Homo sapiens: one gene and its partners. The protein of the gene in region 4 purifies or fractionates together with the protein of the main gene of each other region. This does not show direct contact. Each region holds a gene or a part of one and is shown on either strand. Other genes may lie near its edges. The genes, in order: RIPK4, TIMM13, MTR and AFG2B.

The links.
Region 1: the proteins of AFG2B (region 4) and RIPK4 purify together in Homo sapiens (affinity purification with mass spectrometry; 3 studies listed by BioGRID). This does not show direct contact.
Region 2: the proteins of AFG2B (region 4) and TIMM13 purify together in Homo sapiens (co-immunoprecipitation; 3 studies listed by BioGRID and IntAct, with this or other methods). This does not show direct contact.
Region 3: the proteins of AFG2B (region 4) and MTR purify together in Homo sapiens (affinity purification with mass spectrometry; 3 studies listed by BioGRID and IntAct, with this or other methods). This does not show direct contact.

The regions. Positions count from the first base shown.
Region 1 is NC_000021.9:41,738,488-41,743,860, forward strand, and holds the end of RIPK4 (receptor-interacting serine/threonine-protein kinase 4), read right to left. Parts: intron 3,511-5,373; coding exon 2,351-3,510; 3' UTR 886-2,350; downstream 1-885.
Region 2 is NC_000019.10:2,424,554-2,432,590, forward strand, and holds TIMM13 (mitochondrial import inner membrane translocase subunit Tim13), read right to left. Parts: upstream 3,034-8,037; 5' UTR 2,981-3,033; coding exon 2,861-2,980; intron 2,772-2,860; coding exon 2,703-2,771; intron 2,494-2,702; coding exon 2,395-2,493; 3' UTR 1,536-2,394; coding exon of another isoform or gene 1,374-1,535; 3' UTR 1,072-1,373; downstream 1-1,071. Other genes in the region: TMPRSS9 (transmembrane protease serine 9), read left to right, coding at 449-714, 804-940, 1,374-1,535; LMNB2 (lamin-B2), read right to left, coding at 6,358-6,399, 6,995-7,105, 7,230-7,349, 7,863-7,970. UniProt on the Homo sapiens protein: Mitochondrial intermembrane chaperone that participates in the import and insertion of some multi-pass transmembrane proteins into the mitochondrial inner membrane.
Region 3 is NC_000001.11:236,846,919-236,855,111, reverse strand, and holds part of MTR (methionine synthase), read right to left. Parts: intron 4,769-8,193; coding exon 4,589-4,768; intron 2,592-4,588; coding exon 2,475-2,591; intron 2,165-2,474; coding exon 2,024-2,164; intron 1-2,023. UniProt on the Homo sapiens protein: Catalyzes the transfer of a methyl group from methylcob(III)alamin (MeCbl) to homocysteine, yielding enzyme-bound cob(I)alamin and methionine in the cytosol. MeCbl is an active form of cobalamin (vitamin B12) used as a cofactor for methionine biosynthesis.
Region 4 is NC_000015.10:45,396,960-45,405,962, forward strand, and holds the start of AFG2B (ATPase family gene 2 protein homolog B), read left to right. Parts: upstream 1-5,376; 5' UTR 5,377-5,470; coding exon 5,471-6,559; intron 6,560-8,360; coding exon 8,361-8,546; exon of another isoform or gene 8,547-8,553; intron 8,554-9,003. UniProt on the Homo sapiens protein: ATP-dependent chaperone part of the 55LCC heterohexameric ATPase complex which is chromatin-associated and promotes replisome proteostasis to maintain replication fork progression and genome stability.

The DNA of each region.
Region 1 (5,373 bases), on a different chromosome or scaffold from region 4:
AAAATGCGTAACCTAAACCATATCTTGAGGAAAATTAGATAAACCTAAACTGAGGACATTCCACCAAATAACTGGCCATACTTCCCAAAAGGTCTGAATGAACCCATGAAGGAGCTCCATGTCATAAGTTAATTCAAAGTCAGAAAAGAGAAGACTGAGGAACTGACGATTGATAAAAACGGAAGCCACATGGCTATTGAACACCATGGGGTCCCAGGCCAGAGAGTGAAAAAAAAAAGAGGTGCTGCTTGCGTGTTTTTCAACTTTCTTCTTCTATAAAGGACAGTTTTGAGACAATCAGCAAAATTTGAAGAGAATTTGCAGATTTGATGGTAATATCCTACCAATGTTAATTTCCTGAATGTGATGGGTAAATTGTGGGTGATGCAGGAGAAACTCTTGTTTTTAGGAAATGTACAGGCAAGTATTTAGGAGTAACAGGGCACACTGTCTGCAACCTACTCTCGAACAGGTAGGTAGGTGGATGAGAAAGGCAAATACAATCAAATATAAGCAAACAGGGAATCTAGCTGAAGGGTTACCAGAGTTCTATGTACTACTCCTGTCACTTTTCTGTAATCTGAAATTATTTCAAAATACAGAACGTAAGAACTATAACATTTCAATAAAAACTTCAGTGTTGGGAGCTTCCATCAAGACACACTTCTCTCCCCCACCTGATCACCCGTGTGCGGAGGGACCCAGGCAGAGGACGACGCCCGGCTCCACCCTCTGCTTTCTCGGGGTCCCGCGGCCTGGGTTAATTGAGGACACAGGGGCCCTTCCAGAAGGCCATCTGCAAGCTTCCGTCACTGCCTCAAGCCTTTGGTTTTCAGAAACCAGATTACTCGAGCTCGTTGATAAGAAAAAGCAGTCTCAACCAGCTTCAAAAAAGTAGGCAAGTACTTTGCTTTATTGACATCAAATGGAACTTCTTGTCCCTCACGCAGTCCACACAACAGTAAAGGCACAATGAGGCATATTAAAACATAGCCAGTTTCAACAGCTTGGATATTTCCTGCCATGGAAAAGTATCCTGCCCACAGATTCACATTAACATACATGGTACATTAATATCAATCTCTATCATATACCAGGCCACGGTACATGTTTGCACGCAGGGTCACGTTCTGCAACAAACTTATTCTAATAACAGTATTCAGAAGGCACCCTATGGGACACAGGTGACAGTGAAGTTACGAGGCTAGATGGCCACATCTTTTACATCCAAGAACCGCCCTGGGGCCACACCCCAAACTGCTGAGGTGCGGAGGCACGTCTGCAAAGCAGGTCAGAAACACTCCCCCCATACCCCAAAACACTATCCCTATCCCAAATCACCTAACAAAAATGAGAGCTGGGAAGGGCGCAGGTGAGCAGTGCATCTACCTAGGTAATACTGTCTATGTCTAGGTAATACTATGTAATTTTATCTTCATACTGCGTGTGGAGATAAAAAACACAGCTTCTCCTGCACCTCTTCCCCAAGACTGGTGCACTCCAGCGACCTGAGGGGGCTCGCCTCAGTCCCCAGCACTGAGGTTACAAAGGGAGAATTTTTTAATGACTTAGGCCTGTGGCTCTAGAGTTGCCAAAACATCTTAGGCAACGAGAAACGAACGGCAGCTAGTACCATGTGGGCACGTGTGTGTGGTTGTCCACAAGGACTCACCCAAGTAATAGACTGGAATGGTTAAGAGCTGGCCACACATACGCCCCGCAAAGCTGGCTGCTACCATTCGTTCCTTGTTGCATAAAACATTGTTTTCAAAGCCAACCCCACTACTTAGTCATCATTTAGAGACTAGACTATCCAATGTTATGAACATTTTTAACAGGTTTCAAGCAACAGCTGATAAGGTATTCATCTCTTAAGATATTTTATAAAACAATTCCATGGAAACTTTAAGACAGGCCTCTCTGCCCACCGTCATGTATGAAGATAAAAAACACAGTTTCCCCTGCACCTCCCTCAAGACTGGTGAGCTCCAGCAACCCAAGGTGGCTCGCCTCAGGAGAGAGTGGATGCTTCCACGCCTGGGGCTTCATCACTGAGAGACCAGCCTCAGCGACCCATTAGGAGCACAACGAAATGATTCTGACCCACGGTCCCTTCAGACAGCAGGTGCCTAGATCGATGATGGAGCGGGCATGTGCACCTGAGCCAGCTTCACCTGGAGGGGACACTCCGGTCAGCAGCAGCCGCCTCCTGATGGCACCATGTCACCTCTGCTTGGTTAACATTTAGGTAAGCCACAACAGGGCCCCACGCAGGATCGTTCCATCCCCACGAGGAACACAGGACAGGACAAGAGCCCCACGTGGACCCCCGGTCTCCGCAGGCAGCCAGCTAGGTCTTGCTTCGCCGCAGGAGCGTGGCGGCGGGGCCATGGCCGCCCTGGAACTTGAGGCTCTGCAGGTTGATGTGGGCCCCATGCCTGAGCAGAGTCTCCACCGTCTGTGCGTGCCGGCCCTGGGCGGCCAGGTGCAGCGCGCTGAGCCCCTGCTCGTCGAACAGGTCAATGACATCGGCGCTGACCAACTCCTCCACCACCTCCGAGTGCCCGTGGGCGGCAGCCAGGTGCAGCGCCGTCTGGTTCAGGGGTCCCCGGGCCAGCACATCGGCCTTCTCCTCGACAAGCAGCTTGACAGTGGCCAGGTGTCCGTTGCGGGCAGCCAGGTGCAGAGCGGTGTAGCCGTCTGAGGTCATGGCCTCCTTGCCAGCGCCCCGATGCAGGAGCAGCCTGGCAGTGCTCGTGTGCCCCGTCTCCGCGGCCACGTGCAGGGGTGTCTGTGCCAGCAGGCTGCAGACGTTGACGTCGGAGCACAGGTCGATGAGGATGCGGGCCACGCGGTAGTGCCCGCGCTGTGCGGCCAGGTGCAATGGCGTCCTCCCATCCAGCGTCTGGGCGTTCACACTCACCCCCGGCTGCTTGGCCAGCAGCTTGACGATGGGCAGGTGGCCCTGCCAGGCAGCGTAGTGCAGTGGCAGCCAGGCATCCTTGCCCTGCAGGCTCACGTCCACGCCTCGGCGCAGCAGGATGCGCACGATATTCTCCTGCCCGTGCTGGCAGGCCACGTGCATGGGCGTCCGGCCCTCAAAGTCCACCTCGTTGACCGAGGCGTTCTTCTCCAACAGCAGCCGTGTGCTAGACTCGTCCCCGTTCTGGGCTGCAAAGTGGAGGGCTGTCCACTGGTCCTCATCCTTGGCGTTGACACTGATCTTCCGCGCCAGCAGGAGCTCCACGACACCCCGCACCCTCCTCTCCACGGCCATGTGCAACGGGGTGGAGCCCCTACGGTTGCTCAGGTTGGGGTTGGCATTGTTGAGCAGCAGCCACTTGGCGCACTCCTCTTGCCCGGCCTCCACCGCCAGGTGCAGCAGGCTGGCACCGCTGTCCAGTGCCAGGTCCACGTCCTGCGGCTGCAGGATCTTCATCAGTTTGCTGGTGTCCCCGGACACGATGGCATCCACAAGCTTCTTCTTCTGGACGTCTGTGGTGCCCAGATCTGCAGGGAGAGGAGAGGCAAAGGTCAGAGCGTGGCTGCACATCCAGGGACGTGGCGTCTCTGGGAGCCTGGCTGTGGCGCTCAGGTGGAGGAGTGCCATGGCCTCCAGGCTGCTCGCTGGTCACCCGACTGTGTTTGAGCGTTGTCTGTGCCTCGTGATTAAGGTCAGTCCTAGCGGGAGCCCCGGGGCAGGCTGGCGAATGTCTCCCAGGTGCTCGTTAGTCGGTTTGCAAAATAAAACCCGCTCTCCCTGTCCTGCGGGGTGGTGAGCCCCCTTGGTGCTTAGAGATGGCAGTGACTGCAAACATCCCTTCATTAAAGAAAGAAGGAAAAAGGGCACAGACTAAAAAGACCAGGCCAGAGCTCCCATTCGCCTGGAAGCCTTGGCACCTGCCACCCACGGACGCCCCAGGCCTAGCAGCCTGCAGAGATGGTGACTAGAGCTGGAAGGGGCTGCTCCAGCTCTTGCCCCACCTCGAAGTGGCACCTCCTGACCTGGGGAGGTTAAGTCGGAAGTTTTCTATGATAATCCTGAAGGGACCGAGCTTCTCGTTTCAGGAGGACGTTAGTCCAGCACTCAGGATGAAAAGTTGTATTTACCACAAAAATCCTACCGTAGTGCCTGGAATGCTGAAACCCTGCAACGAGACTCTCCTCCGCCCTCATGTGAAACGCGTGGGGACTTGGAAGTCGGCGGTGGGAAGGTGTTAAGAAAACGGAACCCTCCCAGTCAGGCTTGGTGTCTGAACACTGGCACTCCAAGTGGAGCCAGTGAAGTAATTCTCTCTCGAGCATGAAGACAAGATGTCATTTCAGAGTATTAGACCCAAAGAGAATGTTCTAGAACGTACTTATCCATGGGAGATGGTGGTATTTCTTTCTGCTCAGTCTTAGACTTTGCCCTGACTCTCCTCCTCAAGCCCATCACCCACTGCTTATCTGCCGTCGAACCAGGTCTTCCCCACTGTGTCTATGTAGCATTGCCTTAAAACAAGACAGCCTCCTTTGCCCCCAATATTCTAATCTAAAAATCCCGGGAAGTCTGTAAGATCCAGGAAAAGTCTTTGCCTCCAAGAGGATGTTTCCAATCCACCAGGAAAAGCCAACTTCCCCTTCCCCCGAGATTGCAGCCTTGGCCCTCAGCCCCCGTGGCTGTAGCCCTGAGTGTAAATCCCTGTATTTTCCATCAGAGCTGCAGCCCCTTCAGGAACAGGGCAGGACCACATCTTACCCCTGCAGCCGGCAGAAAGGAGGCCAGAACAAGCACCAGGTCCAGCACCCTGGGGCAGGGATAGGAAAAAAAGCACCTTCCAGAAACAAAAGCCATCAAAATTAACATAAAAAGATGAGATTAGCTAAAAGAGAAGTGCTCCTCCCTATCAGGTGGTTTGCAAAGGTGGCCTGGTGGTAAAACCTCCAAGGATAACCAACACATTACTAGGCCTGGACTACCGTGAACGGGGAGCCCACATATGCGAAGGCGTGGGTGTGTACCCAGCAGCGTCTGAGCAGAGGGTGCGGGACTGCCACGCCCGAGACAGGAGGCCCGCCAGGGAGTGGGGCTCGGCTACTCGCCAGGCTCACTGCACTGGAGGGGGTTTCCAATCTGTAGACCTGAGGTCAGCCTCCACCCATGGCACTGGCACAGGCAAGACTGCTGCACAGACTGGTGATGTGGCCTGTTCCCCACACATGCTAAGTGACATAAGACGGAGCCAAATGCCCAACACACAAAATTAATTACTTAAGACAGAGAGAACACAAAGAAGAATTCTTGCTGGGTCAAGAAACTGTCCCCTTGATTCCGTTTAGCTTCTCACTGAGTCCAGTCCACTGTCCCGCCAAGCCCAGCATCTCTCGGGA
Region 2 (8,037 bases), on a different chromosome or scaffold from region 4:
GGCTAAGCCCACGGGAACATTGGGGTCACTTCTTTCCCCAGCCCTCGCCCCTGGGACTTGGCTCCAGCCCCCCAAAGCCCACCCAGTAGAAAGCTGCCCTCCCCAGGGCCCAAGCCCTGGCAGTCGAGGGGTCCGGTTTTCCAGAGGGGACACCCAGCTCTGGGCTCTGCAGGGCTGGAGGTCAGAAGGGGAGGGCAGGCGGGGGGCGGGACTCGCACGGCCACTAGACCCCTTTTCAGAGCGCTCATATTAGGTGGTGACGGCTGCAGTTCCCGGTGCCGCCTCGGTGCCTGATGGGGGAGACTGAGCCCATTCCCAGACCGACAGCCAGAGACCAAGAGGCCAATAACCCTGCCCAGGGTGCCAGCCGGCCGCTGGGGGACACCACAGGGGCGGGGGCCGGGGGCGTGGGGGCTCGGGCCGACGCCTGTCCTCGCGCGCCCCGCAGCTACGGGGACCCCAAGCAGTGGGCGGCCTTCCTAGGCACGCCGTTCCTGAGCGGCGCGGAGGGGCAGCTGGAGCGCGTGGCGCGCATCTACAAGCACCCGTTCTACAATCTCTACACGCTCGACTACGACGTGGCGCTGCTGGAGCTGGCGGGGCCGGTGCGTCGCAGCCGCCTGGTGCGTCCCATCTGCCTGCCCGAGCCCGCGCCGCGACCCCCGGACGGCACGCGCTGCGTCATCACCGGCTGGGGCTCGGTGCGCGAAGGAGGTAGGCGCGCCCGGGGCCGCGGTGGTGCGGGGCTCGGGGGGCGGCCGGACGCGGTCCCCACCCGCCCCGTCTCGCTCGCCCGCCCGCAGGCTCCATGGCGCGGCAGCTGCAGAAGGCGGCCGTGCGCCTCCTCAGCGAGCAGACCTGCCGCCGCTTCTACCCAGTGCAGATCAGCAGCCGCATGCTGTGTGCCGGCTTCCCGCAGGGTGGCGTGGACAGCTGCTCGGTGAGCCCCGCCCCGGCCCAGGGGACCAGGTCCCGCCCAGCCGCCGGGGAGGGCGGGTTCCCGCTGCCACGAAGCCCACCATCCGGGAGCCACCCTCCGGTGCAGGCTTCTCCAGCGGATCAAGCAGGGAGCCTTTTTGGCTCTGGAGGAATTTCCACTCCACAGCCGTTTATTGGGCAACCCACCGCATCCCATCCCCGGGCCTCGGCGGCAGAGCAGGCAGAGGCTGCAGTGGGAGGCACCGTTCCACTCCGGGACCACGTGGCGGGTGTCCATAAATGTCTGCCACCTTTGCATTGAGCCCATTTTCCAGATAGTGAAAATGCGGCTCCCAGGGGAAGTCACTAGGGTCACTCCTAGAGGGGCCAATGACCCAAGGGCTGCTGTAGGGGAGGTACCGGCCTCTGAACCCCCTTTCTTCTCTCCCCAACAGGGTGACGCTGGGGGACCCCTGGCCTGCAGGGAGCCCTCTGGACGGTGGGTGCTAACTGGGGTCACTAGCTGGGGCTATGGCTGTGGCCGGCCCCACTTCCCAGGTGTCTATACCCGGGTGGCAGCTGTGAGAGGCTGGATAGGACAGCACATCCAGGAGTGACCACCACGTGACTGCCCAGGCCGAGACTCTACGTGAAAGCAACAGGAGCAGCAGGCCACCCAACACCCCACCCCACCGTACCCTACCCAAGGACGGGTGTGGGGGGGCTGTGGGTCATGGGGATGCATTTTGGTACCACCCTTTGTTCCAATAAACACAGCCCCTCCACCCTAGCTCACTGGCTCAGCACCTCAGTGTCACAGCGAGGACCACCTGCCTGGTGCTCCACCAGGACCCGGGGTGGAACGAAGCAGGGTCAAAGCAAGCCCTGACAAGGGGAAGGCTGTCCCCCTTAGCCTTTGGGGCAGGGGTGGCAGCAGCAACACATTCCTCGTGACTCAGCAGCCCGGTGGCACTAAGGGGAAAGATGGACTTCTCCCAACCCAGGGGAGGCTGAGACCCTCCGAGCTGGGGTTCCAGGGACACGCGTCACCTCTTCCCAGAGACCCCTCAGGAGGGAAATAAAGAGGTTTCTCTCCGTCCTCCACCAATTTATTTGCCCATCCGCAGGAGGTGACAGCTCCTGTGGTGTCTGACCACCCCCAACTCCGAAGTCCAGACAAGCTGTCCGCCCAGAATATGAGGCTGACTTGGGCACACTAGGGGAATACCCCAAAGGCCTGAAGGAGGTGCCACTGGGCTGCCAGCACTTCAGGAAGGCACAGGGCCCCACACCCCCGAGATCCAAGCTGCACTGGCTGGCAGGGGGCAGGGCGGGGGGTGGCGAGGACACAGTCCCGTGTGTCCCAGCACCGGTGCCACCCTCCTAAGCCCCGGGCAGGCAGTACGTACATGCGGACCCCGCCTCTCAAAGCACGTTTATGGAAATGAACAGGGTGGGGTGGCCCGCGCTCGCCGGTCACATGTTGGCTCGTTCCCGCTGCAGCCGCGAGTTGTAGGCGCGAGACACGGTGTTCCAGGCGTCCATGTAGCGGTCCATGCACATGGCGATGCACTTCTGCGGGAGCGGAGGGGCGCACGGCTCAGCTCGGGACTTCGCGGCCCCGGGGACCGCCCTGACCCCGGCTCCAGGACGCCCGGGCTGCAGACTACGCACGTGCAGTGACCACTCCGTCGCACCTCCCCGTTAGTCTGCGCACGCGCAGACACCTCCCCCCTCGAATCTAGGCCCTCGCGACCCTTGCCCCGAACCTCCGCGGGTCTCACCTGCTCGGAGTTGTCCAGGGAGCCCCCAGGTTTCCCTATACACTTCCGGAAACACTTGTCCGTCATCCTCTGTGGAGACACGCGAGGCTTTAGCCGCGACGTCGGCCCCCAGGGGTGGCCCTGTCGCCCCCAGCGCCCGTCCCCGGCCAGCCCCGCACCTGCAGCAGCTCCTGCGCGTTGGCCACGGCGATCTGCACTTTCACCTGCTCCATTATGAGCCCTGGGTCCAGCTTCCCGCTGCCGGAGCCCCCGAAATCGGAGCCGAAGCCGCCCTCCATGGCTCCGCAAAGTCAACCGGACCGAGGCCGCGTGCGCCGACTCGTAACTAACTGCGCCGGAAGCGGGCCGCCCGGGGCACCACGGGAAACGGAGTCCGCGCGGACGGGGACGGAGGACTACAACTCCCACACGACCGCGCGCGCCCGGGCCATTCAAGGTCGCGCGGGGGGCCCTCCGCTCATGCGGAGGCCTGGACCTGCCGTTACCTACACGAGCTACCCGTGGTTGCGACTCCGCGGGAAGAGGGAGGCCCTGACTTGGCCGGGGAGTAGGGGGGCTACTACGTGCGGCCGAGGCCGATCACTTTGTACTCACGCTCTGCCTCCAGCTCGTCCCGAAGGGCCTGCCGCGCATGCGCACGAGGCACCCGGCGCGTCTATACAGCGTGTTGCCGCCGGGGCGGAGCCCGGTCGCATCACGTGACGAAGAGTCAGCTTGTGCAACAGCGTCGGAGGCTCACTAGAAAAAAAAGGGCAGGGTCCCATGCATCGCCTGGGTCCTGTTTACACTAGCTACACTAGCCAGTGACCTTTTTCCTTGGGGGTGGAGGGATCTTTCTTAGACATCCGCTTCATTAGGGCAGAGGCCCCGGCTCGAGCTTCCCCTCAGGAATAAACTCAGAGGCAGAACCTAAAATCAAAATGTTTATTGGAGTGTTGTACAAAAAAGTTTCCAGTCATAAAATGTATATTACAAATCATTGGAAAAAAAAAAGAACACATTAGGCATGCATCTTCTTAAAAACCGAATCTCTGAAATGAAAGTCCATGCCAGCCCCAGCTGCAGCCCAGCTCCGTTTTTGCAGGTTGTGCTGTGACGCTCGCTGGACGCAGGGCTTGGAAGAGGCTGCAGGCGGCGACGCCCCAGGACTGAGGAGTCCCTCAGATCTTTAACAAAGAACTGCCGCGTGCAGGCTTCAGACCAACCCCAGCCAAAGCCGCTGGCATGAGGACAGGTGCATGATCGGATTCTGGGTCAGCCCGCAGGCCTCCCGGCTCCTGGGCTCAGCGGGGCAGGCTTCAGCGTTAACCTGGCGCTGTGCACCCCAGAACCCGCGTTGGTCCAGCAGGCGTGGGCCTCCCCCCAGGGCTGGGTGGCGTCTGATGCTTCGCAGGGAGGGCGCTAGGCTTCGAGTCACACGGCACGGGCTTACACAGAGGGATGGTTTCGCATCGTTCTAAGCGGCACACAGCTAAGCGTATTTGGGGACAAATGCAAATTGTTTCCCAGGCCATAAATAACTTTTAAAAATTTGATTTTCTTAGTGTTTCCAAAGACTCAATTCTCAATGAACCTCCAATTACCCACAGGCTGCCCAGTCCACGCTTCTCCCCACCCCCTTCAGCTAAGGGCACCCGCAGTCCTAGGACCACCCCCAGCTCCACCCAAGGCAAATGTAGGGTGGGGGGTTCTGTGGGCCTGGGGCGTGCTGTTTTCAGGACAGGACTGGGCAGCGTCTGGACATGAGGACCTGCGGGTTTTGGGGGGGACTTTGTCCCTGAGCCCAGCCTGCAAGGCTGTCGGCAAATCACAGACCAACTCCAGGATACAGCTTTGCTCCTCCAGAGCCAAAATACATAGGATGTGGCTGAGACCACTGCAGACTCCCCATAGGACAAGATCACCAAGACCCACCCCCAGAACCCTCGCTAGCACGAAGCCCAGCCAGTCGGGTCCGGGTGATTCCTGCTATGAAGGTGGGAAAGAGGACACAGTCTGTCGCCAGCATTCCCACTTCCAGCGGCTGGCAGAGGGTATCCCCGGGGCAGGCAAAGCTCCCTACCAGCCGCCTGACTGGGAGCACAGCGGCGTAGCCTCCAGGAGGAAATGCTTTGGTAAGATGCGCCCCCCTCTATCTACATGGGACCGGGACTTCTGAGAGCAAGGACAGCGAGCAGGGGCTACGTGGAGCAGCGGGTGTTTCTGCTTTGTCGGCCGCTGGCTCCTTCCCGGCCTGGGGCTGGGGCCCCCCATTCCTTCCTGCCACAGGCAGGTCCCCAGGGAGGCGGGATGCAGTCACAGGGGAGCGGTGCCGCCCCCGCCCTGCAGTGAACGCCATGGCCCGGAGACGGCGCGTGCCCATGGCTCAGTTTTGGTGTCTTTAAGACTTGAGCTGCACTTTCTGAAGGAGGCTCTGCCGTCGGAGGGTGCCCCAGCCCCACGCCACCCCGGGGAGGAGGGTCAGCCTGTCCTCAAGGCCCTGGCGTGAGCTCCTGACCTGTGTACTGACCAATGTAAAAAAATAAATATCCATTAAAAAAATAACTTCTGTGTATCTATGAGGGAGGGTGTAAACGGTGAGCTATTGCCGAAGGGGGGTGCCAGGCATTGGGAAGCTGGACTGAGGGGCTTGGGTGCGTCGTGATAGGAGTCAGGTGGCCTTGGCCTGTCTGAGAAACATGGTTTCAGCGAGAAAATCACAGATAAAAGCACAGTATGGATAGACGCATGTGTATATATAGGCACAGGGCAGACGGAGCTGGAACACGGGAGGGGCTCCACAGCGCTCTCCTCCAGAGGGTCAACATGGTGGCGTTCCCTGCAGACAGCTGTTCTGAAACTCACAGCTTCTGCCTCCAAGGCAACCAGATGTGTCCCCTCCACATCTCCCCTCCCTGCTTATTGTTGTGACAGGTCTTACGACGGGACTGTCCTCATTCTTCCTTCCCCAGGTCTTCCCCTCCCCTGCCCTGTTGGCCTTGCACAGTCAGGAACTGAACTGCGGGAAAACTCCCCCAAATAAAGTCAACGGTCCGAGAAACCCGGCCGGTGCGCTGCCAGAACGGGAATCTGGAAGCCCAGGCAGCGGAGTGAAAACCCGCCCTGGGGGCCACGCCATCCCCATGCTGGCCCACACCCGCTGCGTGGCTGCCTGAGGAGTTCCCGCTGTCCGAAGCTGGGCAGCCAGAATGCAGGCTTGGCCCCGGGCCCCACCAGGTCGACGCCTGGATTCTGAATTTGGTTTTGTAGAAAGCCTTAAAAAAACCCACCACCACTGAATTCCTACGCAGTTTCCGCGCTCCGTCCGCAGCAGGGCCGTCTCCTGTCCCCTCGCTAGCCTCGCCGGCCCTCCTCCCTCCAAGCCCAAGCATCTTCTAAACCTCCGGGTCCTGGCCCTGGGCTTCCAATTTGACCAAATGGTGAGATGAGGAGTGGGGTGGGATTGAAAAGTCTCCGGGGCAGCGGCGAAGTGGCAGCGAAGTGAGGCTGGAGGAGACCCGCCAGGAGGGAGGGCTGGGGGAGACCCACCCACACGTTCTGGCAGTTCGCTTAGAAATTCTCTAGAAATGTATCAAGAACTAAAGAAAGCCAATGATATAAAAATAGTTTTCAGTGGCTCTGGGTAAAGAAAGGTGTGTGGATGAGGAGTGTGGGTTCACATCACGTAGCAGCCTCTTGAGGTGGTCCTCGGGTCCCCCTGCAGGAAGGAAGGAAGGAAGGTCGGCCATGATCAGGGCCAGCCTGGAGGCAGCCGGCAGGTAGATGGCTGCCCCCACCTCCCCACCAGGGAGGGGCTGAGCAACAACAGTGTCTATTTCTAGAGCCTTCCATTCCACTTCCATGTCCCCATGAGCCCGCCTGTGAGCTACACATTCTGTTCTGGGTTCCAAAACAGTCACAGGAACTTGCGACGCACGCGTTTAATGCAGCTGTGGTTTCTGCACTCATCTTCTCCCCAGAAGCCAGTATTGAAGGGACCTGTGTCTTCGACTGAGGAAGCCGGTTGACCAGAGAGCATTTGGGGAGCTGTTCAACACCCACCTCTCAGGGGACCCCCTGGCCAGCTACCCTGAGGTCTGTGATGTCGCAAATTCACACGATGGGCACGACCCAGGAGGCAAGAACAGGTCTCTGCCGTGCTGGTAACAGCCAAGGCTGGCTTCACCCTGAGCCACGGCAGCCAGATGGAGCTCCCGTCGGGGATGCGGCCAGCACGCATGTGTATGTGTGTGCACGAGCTCACTCTGCCCCAGAGGCTGCCCCCCAGCCGCAAGTGGGCACAGGGGTCCTACCTGTTGGTGGAAAAGATCCTCCTCGCCAAACTCGGCTTCCTCCTCCTCTTCCTCCCCATTCTCATTCTCACGCATCACCGAGGACTTCTTCACAGTCCTCATGGCCACTTCCTGTGCGGGACAGGACACGGCGGCATGTCCCGGGATCGGGCCCAGAGCTGCTGTGGCGGCCCCGAGGGTGCCCAGACCCTGCCCAGGACTCCAGCCGAGCACCCCCCAAGCCACACACACCCACCTCGCCATCCGCGTTAACCAGGACGGTGCGGAAGCTCTCGCCCGTGCCCCAGCTGCTCTGGCCCTTCCACACCAGCGTCGAGGGGGGGCTGTGGGCCACCCCCGCACCAGCTGCCCACACCTGAGGACCCAATAACAATGGCCCCATCAGGGTCACCTCTGGTTCCAGGGACGTGGGCCAGCCAGTGGCCCCTACCACAAAGCCCCCTTCAATGCCCTGGGCGTTCAGTCCTTCCAGCCCGACGCAGGCTTATCCAGGGTGATGGTCCCCAGGATACACAAGAAGAGACCAGGGTTCACAGAGGCCAAGGGCTCTTGGCAAGCAGGGGCTGAACTGGGATCTGACACCCACCAGGCTCCATGGCCCATGCGCCTGACTGTTAACACTTCACGGGGACGCCTGCCAGCCCCAGCAGCCTGGACTCAGACCCAGGGCACACCACTCAGGCTCCAGGGAGGCCCAGTGGGGTGACACCAGCACATGGAGGTTCTATGACTGCGGCAGCCGCTCTGAGACGGTGCCTGGTGCCACCATCATCCCCACCCACCCCCGCCAAGTCCTGTGCCTCCAGTCCCCTGACCCCACCTCACACCCCATCCGTGGCCACCCTCGCCCTCCTGCCCCACCACCTACCGTGACCATCTGGCCGGCGCGCAGGATGTACTTGGGCGTGAACTTGTAGGCGATCTCCTCCCCCTCCAAGACCTGCCTCTTGATTCTCCAGTTCCCCAGAGACTGATCCTGGAAGACACGGCACACACCTGACCCTCAGCCACCAGGACTGTGACACCGCCCCCATCGCCCTGGC
Region 3 (8,193 bases), on a different chromosome or scaffold from region 4:
AGCGCATCCTAAGGAATTGCTACAGAGCTGGCGACTCCCAAGAGTTATTAGAGGATACCTGTTTTGGTTATTAATTCCCTCAATGGCAACGGAAGTCACCTTGAAGGCAGACAGTCTCCCTGACAGAGAGGTCAGTGGCTTATAAGAAGCCCTCGTGGTTACATTAAGAATGAGGAAATTCTTCTATGATGAATTGTTAAACTCCTGCAATTGCTATGAAGATTTCCCTCACTTTGACAGTGCCTCCAGGGGCAAAACCTCTTGGCAGCTCAGCATGACATACAGAAATGAAAGCTAGTAAACAAACGCTAAAAGTGAGTACAGACCAAAAGAATGCCTAGCACAAAATACAATGCCAAAAAAACCTTAAATGGGAACGGTCTTACAAATAAGGAGCCCCTTTCCTAAGTGAGAGGGCTGCCTCCTCTGGATAGATCAGGGAAAAGATAAAAACACAGCATTTCATGTGTTAATTAAGAACTGTCTAGTATGACTTCATGGCAATAGAGGCTATGATGCCCCTTTGGCCTTCAACAGAACTCTTTGACAGTTATTAATGAAGGACCCCCTACTAGGTAGAAGATAGACCATGACTCAAAACTGAATAGTGTTTAACGCCCATGTCTCAATGTTCAAAGAAGACGACAGGGCTAAGCACTCTATGTGGTCAATAGGAAAAAAATTAAAAATCTATGGAATGTTTCTTAAGTAATGTGCTGAGAAGTAGAACTTGATTGTATCTGCCACAACCAAATGAAACATTCTGTCCTGGGTCCACATGAGAAACTGGAAATGTTTTTAAGGAACTGAGAGGAGGGTCGTGTGAGCGTTGGCACAGTGTCTGAACTCCTTTCAGCTTTGTTGAGCCTAAGGCTTCCATAAGCAATTTCAGAAATCTAAGTCTTACTACCAGTAAGGCTGATAAAACAAGGATGTGGTTAATCTCATAGTGTCCTATCCTTCTTCCAGAGCATTTTATTACTCTTCTGTGGAAGAGGCAAAGTTGGCAGTTCTATCAGAGCTAAATTCAGATTCTAACATGGAAAACATTAACAAAGTTGGCAAGAGACACAAAAGCATCCTACCACTTTCTCAACATGCTTTGTGGGAAAAATATCTTCCTTTGCCATCATTCTCTTAAACAGATTAAAATGCAAGTTCTTTTGAGGTAAAGATCTCAACTTTCCTTAAACTGAATTCTAAGAAGAACCATCTACGATAGATACTTCATGTGCCTAGGACTGCGCCCAACATATAAATGAGAAACAAGCTGGTGTTTGAATTAGCTATAATTATACTCATTTTTTACACATCAAATGTGCACAGACCTAAGCCTTGAACTGCAGAACTTTGCCACAGATGGACCAGATCCTAACATAAACAGGTATACAAACCAAAACATGGAACAGTGGGGACCATGTAACACTAACATAGCCACACAAGAAAATCCAGAACAGCTATTTTAAATAATGAGGTAGAAAAATATCAAGTAAAATGGAAATATGTTCCCAGTACACTGCTAAGAAAAAAATATTACCATAAAAGCATCTAGAGTATAGTTCTATTTTTGTAAAAAATGTATGTATATGTACCTATGCATGCATATTCATTTTGCAAAAAGAAATAAAAACTCCCATCACTTAAAGGTTATAACAAAATCTCAAGTGTTTAACTTTGGGTGGTAGGATTACAAGTGATTTTTATTTTCTTCCTTTGCTTACCAGAATTTTGTAAATTTTCTAGAACTAATATGTTACTTGGTACAAGAAAAATTAATTTTACATTTTACAATAAATTTAAAGAAACCTAAGTTCAGAATACGGAAGCACCCTAGGCATGGTCTGTTTACCCTTCCTTGCCCTAGCTACACCACCATCTCTGCAACTCTCTGTAGAAATCTTCAGTGATCCAAATATATGATTCGATATTTGCTTCTATTCCACCATGAAGGTCTACTAACTGTAGGTGAGTAATACATTCAAAGATAGGAAAAATCCATCTATTAGAACACTTGTCTCTCTACCTGGGCATAACGTAAGAGCTTCTCAGTGGCCTCAGGGTCTTTATTCCAGATGAGATCTTCACAGAGCTGCAGAAGTTCCTTATGGATATCATCATACACAGGGAGGTTTCCAGCATTCACTATCCCCATGTCCATGCCAGACTAAGGGCAATACAAATAAAAATGAGAATTTACAGTGATACCTTAAGTCAGCGATCAGCAAACTTTTCTCTGTAAAGGGCCAGAGAGAAATATTTTAGGCCATAGCCTCTGTCACAGCTACTCAACTTTGTAGTTACAGCATAAAAGCAGCCACAGACAAGATACAAATGAATAGGTGTGGCTCTATCCCAATAAAATCTTATTTACAGAAACTGGCAGCAGGCCGGACTTAGCCTGCATGCCACACTTTGAAAACCCCTGCCCCAACTAAAAACTGGTTTCCGCAGGGCTAAGAGTTCTTCTACCATACCTTGATTGCATGGTAAAGGAAAACCCCATGCATTGCTTCTCGAATGGCTTCCATTCCTCGGAAGGAGAAGGACAAGTTGGAAAGACCTCCACTTATTCTGGCTCCAGGTAATGTTTCCTGGCAAAAATTTTAAAATATGAAAAGATTCCCCTTTTTTGCCAAAAACAGCAATCACATCTCTTAAGCTTTATATAGGAGTGGAAAGAAAAAAAAACAAAAAGCATCCGAAGTTCAAAGTAATTCAGAGCTTCTTGTTACTAGACATAGACCAAAGCTTGCCGTATTACAGTATTACAAAGGCGCTGCTTCGTAAGTAGTTTTTCCTACTAGACTCCAATCTCCCTAAGGAGAACACGCGCGTACACACACACACACACACACGCAGAAAGACAAAGAGGAATTCCTTATTCACTGAAAGTACAAATTACTAGAAGGCTTCCATAGCCTAAATGAACAGACTCCCTAGTTCACTATGAACTTGACCGACTATAAAAGGACAAAAGGAAATTGAAGTTCCAACCATACCGATGACAGTATCAAGCATCATCAGGCTTGTGGAATAACAGGAACTTTCACTATTATTGGCTCAAGAATCTAGGGAGACAGTTTGTCATTATCTACTACTATGAGCCAACCACTTCTGGGTCTATGCTACAGAGAAGTTCAGGCATGCATGTCTAAGATACATATATAAGAATACTCAGAGCTGCATTGTTCATAATGTCCAAAAGCTGGAAAAAAACTAGATGTCCATCAACAATAGAACAGTTAATTGTGGTATAGTTATACCATAGAATATTATACATTAATAAAAATGAACAAACAGCTACAGCCACACAGATAAATCTTTAGTATGGAGTAAGAAAAAAACATAAAAATATTACGATTCTATTTTTATTAGGCTCAAAAGCAGGCAAAACCAAACTATATCATTCAGATATTCAGTCAATTCTTACTATTTTGTGGTAGTTATGTTCTTTAAAGTCACTGCAAACACTGAATTAGGGAATACCAGAGCATTGCTCCTAGGAGAAATACAGGGCTAGGTTCCTATGAGCCTCTGATGACATTTTTGTCAACCAATCAATACATAACCTTGTTTTGTGCATGTATGTTAAGATGCTGTATCTAATATTTACTGTTGATTCATTAAGACTGAATTCACAGCCAATGGCACTATAATTCATGTCTGAACAAAGCTTATCTAACACACATATTTCCTCCCTAAGGAACATCACAGCCTTCTTGTGCTTAGAACACTAGACAGCACTAGTATGGGGCCATTTTAAAAAGTGACCTCACCAACAAAACGCATAAAAGTGTGAAAAACATGGCATTAGACTGCAAAAAGGACATCTGTGTACAGGATGAGAGCTGAAATAAGAAGGTAGGTCACTGCCATGTTTGCCCTCTTTGGGAATAATATGGGTTGGGCCACTCAAATTTTCCACCACTCTGCATATGGGTAAGTCTGAACAACTGCAGAAGTGACGTTGAGTATTGATTTTGGGGTCACAAATAAATTTCAGTAAGTACATGAATTTGCAAATATAAAATCCATAGATGATGCAAATCAAATCTACATATATAAGCAATAAATTTATGAAGAAAAGCAACAGAGTAGCGTCATAAAACTCAGGACAATAGCTACTTTATAAAATTGAGAATGAGGTGTAACTGGAAAAGGAGAGACAGACGGGGGCGCTAGCTATGCTCTATTTTGGGACCTAAGTGAAGGCTCTTATATGCTTCATAATTAATTATTTATCAGGTTCTGTGGTTTTTTTGTTTTGCATCATTTTGTTCAAGGCAGGGCCTCACTCTGTCGCCCAGGCTAGAGCGCACTGGCGTGATCCCAGCTCAATGCAACCTCCACCCTCCTGGGTTCAAGCGAGTTCATCAGGCTCTGTTATGTTCTCCAGTCTGTTTGTTACACAAGTTAAAACTCTACTAAAGAAAAAAAATAAGGTCTCCTACATTTCAGAAAAACAATTTACTAACTAAGAATGTTAACATTTCATCAGCCAATAAATATATAAGTTAGTTCTAACCATTCATTAGACCCATGGGACAAATTTGAGCCATGACTTGGGAGAGAACATGCCTACACTTACTTTAATGACTTTTGTTGCATGGATAAAATTAATGGCATACAAGTTGTGTTCCTCCATTCCAGTCCCAATGGTTAGGATATTAGGGTCAAAAATAATGTCATTTGGATTAAAGCCCAGTTTTTTCACAAGCAGATGGTAGGCCCGGGTGCACACTCTGATTTTTGTGTCTGTTTCTGTTGCCTAGGGAAAAGAGCAAAAGATGTAGTTTGAAATAGAAAAATTATCTATTAAAATATTAATATTAAATACCTGTTATTTTATTTTAATAAAATATTAATATTAAAATATTAAGTGTTATACATTAGAGCACATTTCACTCACTGAAAACACTCAAGTGTCAATGCTTGGATTTCACAGAAATCTAAATGCCAAGCAGCTTCCGATCACTTATCAAATTATCTCAGAGGAGAGACTGGTTTAAAGATCTCTTTGTGTTTTCACAAACACAGCAGCTATACTCTTTCTGCAAAAAATCAAACCTTAAACATATACACACATATGGTATATTATGAAAAAGCTTCTAAAAATACATGCATATGATAAAAAATCAAATACTACTAAAGAAGAGATTAACATGTAAGTGCCCCTTCCTCTCTTGACCTGACAGCAGTGTCACAACCTATCACCCAGGAAACACTGCCATTGCTTTCTCAGATCTTCTTGCAAAAACATTCTAAGCATATTCAAGGATATGCATTTATTCCTCACCTTCACCCATTTTAACACTGGCCTAACATGTGTCTTAAGTCATAAATACAAATTAGTCTTTACCTTCAAAATAATGTCCCTAAAAGGCAAAACACTAACTCCGGCAAGGCTCATCCCCCAGCTGCTTCCCAAAAGCCTCAGAATCTCAGCCTCCATCTCCAATCTCATCTCCTACCATTTGCCCTCTCCTCTACTCCGCACCTCCTACATTGCTCCTTTGGTGTTTTTGAAACCCGTCAAGCTTGTTCCTCCCTCAGCAACTTTCATTTATTGCTGCCACTACCAGAACATACCATGACATGGCTTTGTGCTTCACAGAACTAAGGCTTCTGCCCAAGTGCCCCCTTTTCAGAGCCTACCTTAAATCACCCTCTCTAAACCAGCCACTTCCACCCTTCCCCACCTCCTCCATTCTTCTTCGGAGTATTTCTTTCCAGAAATTGTATTATTTTGGCAACATCTTTAGTATTTTTCGTTGTTTTATTACTTGTTAATTGGTAAACTCCTCTCCCCTAGATAGAATGCCAGTCTTGCTTTATCCCCAGTGCCCTGAGCAGTGCCTGTCAAAGTAGGTGCTCAACATTATGTATGAATGCTGCTTTTACTCAAAGTATTTCTGAACTTTGTCATGGAAACTGTCTTCAGATCAAATTTACAACCTCAACACAGGGTATTCACCAAATTACATCCTGAATTATTTCTGGTTGTATGAAAAATCAAATCTACTCTTAAAAAATGATTACTTGCTATCACTCCAGAGATAAGAAAAAATAAGTCACAATTCTGAAGGTCAATTCTCAATGAACGCGAAAAATGTTCTTGAAAAATGGCCAACCCTACTGCAATCTATATTGCAGACTTCTGTGGAGATGAGGGGGTAGGGACACGGACATAGGTCAAGTGCATCTAGTGAGGCCCTAGACAACAGAAATGAGGAGTAGGGGAATTATGAAAAGAACTCTCTCTTAGATCTAGCCTTTTGATCACTTACTACTTTGGTATTCTTTTTCAACTGTTTTCTTTGGTCTCTTTAATCGCTCTCTGCAGCTGGTGGGGTGAGACTTCACCTCTACTTGGGAGGGAAGTGCCTCCAGGACTTAGCAGACAAAATGGCCCAGGGAAAGGGAGACAGGAAGTGGTCTCTGTGGCCTCACTGCACCCAGGCTTTAGGGAAGGTGGCGAGCTTTCGTCTTCCTTAATGGAATTTTCTCAATGCTTACTTCCTCTGCCTTCAGTTAGAGTGAAAAGGTTAAGGTTGAGACTGAGATGTATGTCAGAAAAAACTGGTCAGAAACAGCCCATTTGCAGCTGCCTTTAGGCTTGAACTTTTAAAGTCTACCCTTCACCAGACAGCCCAATAGAGTTCTAGGCTCTAGGTTCATGGCTCATCTAAGCTCACTAAGAGAGAAGGCACAGGGGCGACCAATGCTACTAGTATTACTGAGTAACCTAGTCTGGTTGGTAGATGAAGAAGTCAAGGTCCTGGTCATTCCTCATCTGAGCCATGAATATTATCTGGCCAAGCAGGGCAGGTTGAAGTGAACAGTATGTTACCCACAGGAGAGTAGGGTGTAGGGCCCAGCTGTATACCAAAGACAGCCCTGCTTGTGGGACAAGCAGGTGCATCCTCACAGGACAGGAATTCATTTCTAGAACCAAAACAGAGTCATCAACTCTAACCTCCATAAGGATGAAGCCCTTGTCAAATTGTTCTCATGGCGTCTAGCACAGTATCTGTGCCACATTAACAGATACTCAACCTCTGTCACTTGATTAAACAATGACTCTCAGAGTGAACACGGCATTGGTGTACAGGCCTTTGTCAGGAGCAGGTCATATCTCATATCACGTAAGGTTCACCAAGCTTCTGTCTTACTCCTCACCAGGGCTGTGGGACAGACACACTAATAAAGCCTCAATCGTGCTGGTGGATTTCAGAGATCCAGAATAGAAGTTCAGTAAAACAACGGAATGGCAGCTTTACTCCATCAGGAAGGGCTTTCAACTCTGGTTGCACATTACAATACCCTGGAGGGATTTCTGTTTGCTTGTTTTTTATAATAGTAACACCTCACCCTGAACCAGTTAAATCAGAATCTGGAGATGGGGTCTCAGCAAGTGTTTTGTAAAAGCCCCTTAGTGATGCTAATATAAAGCCAGGTGAGAACCACCAACAGGTGAGATGTGGCACCTTCTTCAGTTGGAGTAGAAGAAAAACTCAGTGAGATTCTAAGCAGCAAGAAGGAAGGAATAAATGCCATTTATAGCTTTATCAAACAGGTTTACTCTTAAGCCATAGAGAAGCTAGACTGTGACCAGTGAGTAGAAGGCTTTACTTAAGAAGCTCATGGCTCAGATTCTGCTAAAATATCACACACTCAGGCAGTAATGCAATAAAACAATTTTTGATTTGGTCATCAAGGCAGACACTGTGAGGAAGAGAAGGACAATGTGTAGAAGACATCTAGATTCTTTAATGTAGTCTGACAAGGAGCAGAGATCGAACAGGGCTAACTTCAGAGGTGAGTTAAAGTTTTAAAATCGAACTGAAGTAGTTGAAGATGGGCGAGAGAACCCTGGAGGAAGCAGAGGCCCATCCTGGGGCTGTAATTAAAAAAAGAAGTGGCCCGGCCCAGTACAATGGCTCACATCTGTAATCCCAGCACTTTGGGAGGCTGAGGCAGGTGGATCACCTGAGGTCAGGAGTTCGAGAACAGCCTGGCCAACATGGTGAAAACCCATCTCTACTAAAAATACAAAAATTAGCCAGTTGTGGTGGCAAAGGCCTGTAGTCCCAGCTACTTGGGAGGCTGAGTCAGGAGAATTGCTTGAACCCGGGAAGCGGAGGTTGCAGTGAGCTGAGATCACGCCACCGCACTTCAGCCTGCACGACAGAG
Region 4 (9,003 bases):
TCTCAGGGCATTGGCACAGGCTTTTCCCTCTTCCCTTTCCTCTTCCAATTCTTCTGCTTGGTTTCTACTTATCCTTCACGTCTCAGCTGGAATGTCACTTCCTCAGAGACCTTCTCTCCTTTCCTGTTGTGAAGTAAGAAATATATATATGGTCTCTGCCTCTAGTCTCTGGCCTAGAGCTCCCAACACCCTTGTAATTTCCTGAGTTACAGGGGTGCTAGGAGAATCTTTGGTTCTAATGTTTGGTCTTCACTCTCGTTCCTGACATGGAGCTCTTAAATCCCGTGGACTTTCCTGAGTGATAGGAGCAGTCTTTTGTTCTACCAAGGCAATTCTTGCCCGGCTCCTAGATGAGGGCTGGTCACCGGAAAGCCCAACCATGATCATAAACTTGGAGCTTTCAGCCCCTACCTCCATTCTCCAGAGAGGGACGGAGGCTGGAAATTGAGTTAATAATTGATCATGCCTACGTGATGAAGGCCCCATAAAAATCCCTTAACTATGGGGTTCAGAGAGCTTCCAGGTTGGCAAACACACATCCATGTGCCTGGAATGTGGTACATACCAACTCCATGGGGACAGAAGCTCCTGTACTCAGGACCCTTCCAGATCTCACCCTTTGTATCCCCTGGCTGTTCATCTGTATCCTTATTACATCCTTTATTAATAAGCCAGTAAATGTAAGTAATGTGTTTTCCTGAGTTCCATGAGCCATCCTAGTAAATTAATAGAACCTAAGAAGGGGGTCATGGGAAGCCCAATTTACAGACCGTCCCTGGTCAGAAGCACAAGTCACAATCTGGAACTTGTGATTGGCATCTGAAGGTGGGGGGCAGTCTTGAGGGACTGGGCCCTGAACCTGTGGAGTCTGATGCTATCTCCAGGTAGATAGTCTCAGCATTGAATTGAATTAGAGGACACCCAGGTGGTATCTGTGGGAGAATTTGCTTGATATGTGGGGAACTCCCCAACCAACACCTGGTGTCAGAAGTGCTGTGTTGAGTGGCTGAGTGGTGTATGAGAGTAGGAAAAACAATTTGTTTTGTTTTTCCTATCCTTAATACCTGTTTAAAGTAGCCCTTTTCCGTTTATTTCTTTCAAAGCAATTTTCATCACCTTTAATTATCAGATTTATTCACTTGTTTACTTCTTCAATGTTTGACTTCCCAGTAGACTATAAGCTTCATGAAGGCAAGGATTACAGTGTTTTTATTGTTGTTGTTTGCCACCAAATACTCAGCCTCTGGTATAGTAACTAGCAAGAAGTAGATGTTCAATAAATATTTGTTTTAATAAATATATAATTATTATGTTTGTTGAAAAGTGTGAACCAACATCATAGGGAAAAATTACCTTAACATTAACTTCTAAAAAATGATGAATCAAGCAATTTCCTGAAAATGTGCAAGAACAGACTTTCAGAATGATGTTCTATGAACTGTAGTCTGCAGGTCATTTGAAATCCAGCAAATATTTTCATCCTCCTTCTTCTGATTCTATAACTTATTCTATATCTAGAATTACTCTAAAGACTAATTCTAACCTGGATACAAGATAAAAAGTAAAGATGGAAGATTCTAAAGAACAATTTTAACAATGTCCCATTTAGGGGGATTTTCATTACATACTTTATGAACACAGGTTCGGCATATTAGCTATCCGTGGAAATAAGTCACTTACTACATCTACATGAGCATGTTGAGATGAAAGTGTTTGCAAATCATGCTTTTTCAAGGGTGGCTAAACAAATCTCTATTCATCTATTACAACTCATAGTCATTGCTAATGTTCAAATATATTAGGGTTGAACATAACACAAAAATGGAAATGCTGGAAAGATTAACATTATTTAATCTACAGATGACTCATGCTACTGGTTTAACCATTTTCTTTAGATTTTTTTCATATACAGGAATATATTTTTATATACATATATAATATGCTGAAGGGACAAAAATATTGCATGATCATTATCCTAAAGAAACAGATTCCAATTATTTCTTTTGAATTATAGACTTACAGTTAATTAAGAATTTTTATAGTTAATTAAAAATTAGACAGATTGTAACCTTGAATGTAACAAAGGACATAAAGAGAAACCATTTGTCACATGTACCTTTTCGGGAAAATCTCACAAAAGATTTTGTTTGGCAAAGCTATTTGAAACAATTTAAAGCTAGAAATGTTTCTAGGCTATAGCAAGATGAATTCCATCGGTTTGGATTTTGACCTACCACTAAATTTTGGATTTAGGAACAGTCTCATTTTTATACTTAACACAAAAATTAAATTTTAACTTAGAAACTGAGTTTTACACAGCTTGAGGCTTGTGAAAAATTATGTGAAAATAAGTCAGTTACTGCTAGGGTCTCAGTGTTTGTGTCCTCCACAAAATTCATTTGTTGAAATTTTAACCCTTGAGATGATGGTAGTAGGAGTCAGGGCCTTTTGGGAGGTGATTAGGTCACGAGAGTGGAGCCCTCATGAATGGGATTAGTGTGCTTATAAAAGAAACATGAGGGAGCTAGCTAGTCCCTTCCACCATGTGCAGGTACAATGAGCTGTCTCTAGACAGGGGGCCCTTACCAGTCATGGAATCTGCCAGTGCCTTGTCTTTGACTTCCCAGCCTCCAGAACTGTAAAAAATAAATTGCTGTCATTTATAAGCTACCTCGTTCGTAGTATTTTGTTACAGCAGCCTGAACAGACTAAGCCAGATAATATATAGAGACAACAGATGGCTTCATACACCTAGGTGTGAATCCTGGGAAAATTGAGTGGAAACCACAGTTGAGAACACCAACGTCCTAACAATCCTGTAGCCTTCAGGCTTAGTTGGTTCTGGACTCCCTCTAGTGGTTCAATTCTAGTGCTTTAATTGATGTTCTTCAATTCATAGAATTAACAAATTTCTGGTCAGATTAAAAACAACTAAGCAAAAGAGCCACACAACTCCCATTAGAATGGTTTACCACAAGGAGGCCAGGTGCAGTGGCTCATGCCTGTAATCTCAGCACTTTGGGAGGCTGAGGCAGGTGGATCACTTGAGGCCTGGAGTTCGAGACCAGCCTGGCCAACAGGGTAAAACCCTATCTCTACTAAAAATCCAAAAGTTAGCCAGGCGTGGTGGTAGGCACCTGTAATCCCAGCTACTTGGGAGCCTGAGGCAGGAGAATTGCTTGAACTTGGGAAACAGATGTTGCAGTGAGCTGAGATCCTGCCATTGCACTCAAGACTGGGTGACAGAGCAAGACTGTCTAAAAAATAAATAAAATTTTAAAAATAAAAAGAATGGTTTATCACAAGGAGATTATGTCATTGAATGGCATGATAAATATGGATGTTCAGATGGCTGAAATCATAGTGTTGCAAATGGTTAGACCTAAAGGGACAGAATGGATTTTACTGGATGATTGGGAAAGACATTTATAGTTTTGCTCAGAGTGAGTGGATAAGAGCTGAAGGCCCAGTAACAGAATTCCTTGTTGCTTTTGTTTGCAACCTATGGTAAAGACTGGATCTTTTAGAGAAAGAGTGAAGTGAAATAATATTTCCTGTGCATATGGATTCTATAAGGTCAGAGGGTTCTTGTTTGACCTTGTATAAAATCAACCTCTTAGACCAACCAAAAGCAACATGTAGTTTCCTTCTCATCATATTCCTAATAGCATAGTTTGTGCCTCTGTTTTAAACCAATTCAGAAAATTTTGAGGCCGATTTAACTTTATTGGCTCCCTGTTTTGGCTTTGGTTATTCCACTCCATTAAACCTTTACTTCTTGGCCATTTCTGCACTGTAAATATAAGTAAATCTACTAACTCTTTTACATGAGATCCCTTTACATATTTAAGACAGTTATCCTGTCCTCAGTAAGTCTTCTTTCCCTCTCCCAGATCCTTAAAGCTTCTTGGAGCTGAATAGAAGGAACTCGATGAGGTACAGGCTTCTGATAAAATAACTTGATAGGCATGTAATTCACACCTTTAGGGGTCGGTAAAAACGATGGCTTTTTTTTTATTTCAAAAAATGCAAAGCTGTTATTTAAAAGTCCCCAAACCAAAAAGAACTGAAGCCAATGGGATTAAGAGGAAAAAAGAAAACAGGAAGTAATGGGTGACTTATCCATTTCAAGACCTCCTCCTGCTATTTTCTGATTCCTAAATTGTTCCAGAATCGATTTAAGCAGACAAGTACAGCTGAGACCAGGTAAGTTACTGTCAAGTCAAGAAGTCTGTCATGTCTGCCATGAAGTTTGGACAGAATGAGATCAGGAACTGGCATGGGTCTTAAGATCCCAGATCTGACAGTACTTCCCATTGATAAGATATTACTACACAGTCTGTAATTGATTATTTGCATAGATAGAAAAAAAAAACTTCCCAGCAACTTAAGCACTCTAAAATATCAGTTTTGTCAACTCACAAATTTGGGTTGCAGTGAAAGTGGGGAAAATAGAGGTAGGAAGATGTAAGTCAAATAAAAACAAGGTATATCTTCTTGTCTTTGAGTATCTGTAGTTCTTTTTTAACGGCAATTAAGAGGGATAGAAAATGTATTCCAGCTGATAAAAAGGAATTCCCTGTGCGAAAGGGAAAGGCAGAAAGCAGCTGGAAAAAAAAAATAGCAGGCAGTTGTCTTAATAACGTAGATAGGTATCGCCTCTAATACAGGACTTAGTACTGTTGTGCCCCAATTAGACAGTAAGCATTGATCGCATGAACTTTAGTGATTAACTTGTTGCCAAAGAATATTCAAAAGAATATCAGAAATCAGAACAAATGTACTGTTGGTGTGCTACAAATCCATCAGGTAGCCTAGTTTTCCTTCTTTCCTCTCTACAAGGGATTTTAAGCGCTACCGTGTGCTTCCCTCCCACTATGCTGGTACTTTCCCATAGGAAGGGTTGTGCCTGGACCTCCCAGATTGGAACCCCGATTACCGAAGGTCCCAAGGCTGTATTCTCAGTTACGCCAAGTCACCTGAGACATTTGCACCAGAGCACCCAAAATTCTGTGCCCATGCGGATAGTTAGAGTTTCTTCACAAAATAGCAAAGTCTCTAGGTTGCTATTCCAACGGCGGTAGTACTGATGCTCCAGTTCGAAGGCCAGGAAAACAGAATGTAAAGCCGGTGACTTCCAAGATATATGTAACCACCAAAGTACATGCTTAATGACCTAGTGAAGTGAGCTTAAGCCGCCTCCCAGACACCTGTAACGAAGACCATCTCGGGAAAGCTCTGGGTTAGGCAACTCGATTTCACGAAAGCGGACACCAACGCTCTACCCAGAGGCCCGAGCGTCGTCTAACGTTTCCATTGGCCCTTTCGGCCTTCACTCAGCTGCTAGCAACGCAGTCTGCCCTAGCGCATGCGCGCAATCTGCTTCCGGCCTGCGAGCTCGGTGTTCCGCTTTTTGTGGGCCGGGTGGGTTTCCTAATCTGGTTTCGTCTGCCTGGTTCATCTGTGTGCGATGGCTCCGGACTCGGATCCCTTCCCTGAAGGGCCGCTCTTAAAGCTGCTACCCTTAGACGCTAGAGACCGGGGCACCCAGCGCTGCCGCCTGGGCCCGGCCGCCCTCCACGCCCTGGGCGCGCGCTTGGGCTCGGCAGTGAAGATCTCGCTACCCGACGGCGGCTCCTGCCTCTGCACTGCCTGGCCTCGGCGGGACGGAGCGGACGGCTTTGTGCAGCTGGACCCGCTGTGCGCGAGCCCCGGGGCGGCGGTCGGGGCGTCGAGATCCCGGAGGAGTCTCAGCCTGAATCGCCTCCTCCTAGTGCCCTGTCCGCCCCTGCGGCGCGTCGCCGTGTGGCCGGTGTTGCGAGAGCGGGCAGGCGCGCCCGGTGCCCGGAATACAGCCGCGGTGCTGGAGGCGGCACAGGAGCTGCTGAGAAACCGACCGATCTCCCTGGGCCACGTGGTGGTCGCTCCGCCAGGCGCTCCTGGCCTGGTGGCTGCCTTGCACATCGTCGGCGGGACGCCCAGTCCCGATCCCGCTGGGCTGGTCACCCCTCGTACCCGCGTCAGCCTTGGCGGGGAGCCTCCGTCGGAAGCCCAGCCGCAGCCCGAGGTGCCCCTGGGAGGTCTTTCGGAGGCGGCCGACTCGCTGCGGGAGCTCCTCCGCCTCCCGCTCCGCTACCCGCGCGCCCTGACCGCGCTGGGCTTAGCGGTGCCTCGCGGGGTGCTCCTGGCGGGGCCCCCCGGAGTGGGCAAGACCCAGCTGGTGCGGGCCGTGGCGCGCGAGGCGGGCGCGGAGCTGCTGGCAGTCAGCGCCCCGGCGCTGCAGGGTTCCCGGCCTGGGGAGACCGAGGAGAACGTGCGGCGGGTCTTCCAGCGCGCCCGGGAACTGGCCAGCCGCGGACCCAGCCTCCTCTTCCTGGACGAGATGGACGCCTTGTGTCCCCAGCGGGGCAGTCGAGCACCCGAGAGCCGCGTAGTGGCCCAGGTGTTGACGCTGCTGGACGGCGCCAGTGGGGACCGCGAGGTCGTGGTTGTGGGAGCCACTAACCGGCCGGACGCTCTAGACCCAGCGCTGCGTAGGCCCGGGAGATTTGACCGAGAGGTGAATGGGCTTGGCGGGTTTGCCCACTGTCGGTGGAACCTCGGCCGCTTCTGGCGCCATTTGGCTGCCCCGGAGGCGTTTGCCTCTTAGGTTTGAGCATCGGTGAGGTTGGAGTTGGGGCTCTTTGCAATGCAGAGAACACGTTCTCTGCCGATATATGATCTGTGAGTCAGGACCTGTATTTCCCCAGAGTCAAATTGTCAGGACCTGTGAGTCAGGATCTGAGAGTCAGGACCTGTTTCCCCAGAGTCTAATTGTTTTGGGAAGCGAGGTGTCCATTACAGATTAATTTTGTTGTGCAGGTCCTATAATCAGTAATGTTAATTCTTAAGAGAATTTTGGTCACCTACAAGCGTGTTAAACTCATTTTTTGGAATGAGAATTTAAAGAAGGATAGCCTCAAGAAGTAAGTGTGTTGAAATAAAAAGGGAGAAGGTGGGGAAGAACTAAATGGAAGCAGGCATTAACTCTTCTGGATTTATTCATTCCTTGTCATAACACCAGCATCCTATTCCACAATTGAGGAGGTACCCACAACTGCTCCCTGAGTTGTCAGGGAGGTTGAATATTCAGAGCTGTCCTATTTTAAGCTTTGGTCCTAAATTGACTTGAATTCTAAAGAACAGTTTGAAATTTAGTGACTGATATTTCTATTTTGTGATAGGATTCAAAAGAGAAATGATAATTACACACTTTTAGCTCAGTTAGTTCAGGACTTGAGTGGATTTCTTCCTTGCACTATCTAGTACCTGTGTCCTTAAGGGCAGGGACCTAGCTATCTATACCTGGCTTCTAGAACTTTGTGTGTTCTTAAAAATAACAAAAACTTGTTAAATGACATAGAATTTTCATTGTGCAACTTTCTAGCCAGTGTTACTCCTCTGGAATATTAGGATTTTCGTATATTCAGAATCTAAAGTATACGTAAAGTGCACGGTACTAGTTCCAAAGTGGTTCACTAAATTGTCGTACATGTTTGTCAGGATAAAAAACATATTATTATTTTGGCCGGGCGCGGTGGCTCACGCCTGCAATCTCAATACTTTGGGAGGCTGAGGTGGGTGGATCACCTGAGGTCAGGAGTTCGAGACCAGCCTGGCCAAGATGGTGAAACCCCGTCTCTGCTAAAAATACAAAAAATAAGCCGGGCATGGTGGCACATGCCTGTAGTTCTAGCTACTCTGGAGGCTGAGGCACCAGAATCACTTGAACCAGGAGGTGGAGGTTGCAGTGAGCTGAGATGGTGCCCGCTGCACTCCAGACTGGGCAGCAGAGTGAAACTGTGTCTCAAAAAAAAAAAAAAAAGAAAAAAAAAATATATATATGTATACACACACATATATAAAATTTTTTTGGAAGTAATTCTTTTTTAATTGATCTATTTTTATTGATACATAATTGTGCATGTTTTGGGGTACATGTGATATTTTGGTACATGCATACAATTTGTAATTATCAAATCAGGGTGCTTAGGATATCCATCACCTCAAACATTTATCATTTCTTATCTGAGTGTTGGGAATATTTCAGATTCTCTCTAGTAGCTATTTTGAAATATACGAGAAATTATTGTTAACTATAGTCACCCTACTACACTATCAAACATTACACATATTCCTTCTACCTAACTGTATGTTTGTACCCATGAGCCAACCTGTCTTCATCCCCTCACCCCCAACCCTTCCCAGTGTCTGGTTGCTATCATTCTGCTGTCTACCTCCATCCATGAGATCAACTTTAAAAATAATATATTTTAAACTATATACTTCTTCTTCTTTTTTTTGTTTTGCTTTGCATATAGGTGGTCATTGGGACTCCCACACTTAAACAAAGAAAGGAAATTCTGCAAGTGATTACCTCGAAGATGCCCATCTCCAGTCATGTTGATTTGGGCCTTCTTGCAGAAATGACAGTTGGCTATGTTGGTGCCGACCTGACAGCACTCTGTAGGGAGGCTGCCATGCATGCCCTCCTTCATAGTGAGAAGGTAAGAAGTGTTAATTTATGAACATCTATGTTAATCTATTATTGTAACAGATTAATTTGGGGGTTAAAAAAAAGCGGTGAGTACATTTTCCTTAGAACATTTGATAGCTTCCACAGCTGTTGCTTATACATTTTACATCTCAACTCTATATAAATAGTATATGATTGAGGGTGGGGATAAAGGGCTGAGTCCTCTGGGTCTACTGAGTGAATTTGTTCCCTACTCTTATAGTAACTCCCTAGTGCTGAAGCCCAGAGCAGCCAAGAAATAGTGTGGCCCCAGAAGAATCAAAGAGTTTTTTTAATTTGAATTTTTTTATTTTGAGGCAATTTCAGACTTAGAAGTTACAAAAATAGTACAAAGAGTTTCCATATACCCTTCTCCTAGATTCTCCAAATGTAACATTTGCCACATTTGCTTTATCATTCTCTCTTCATGTGTATTTCCTTATATATAT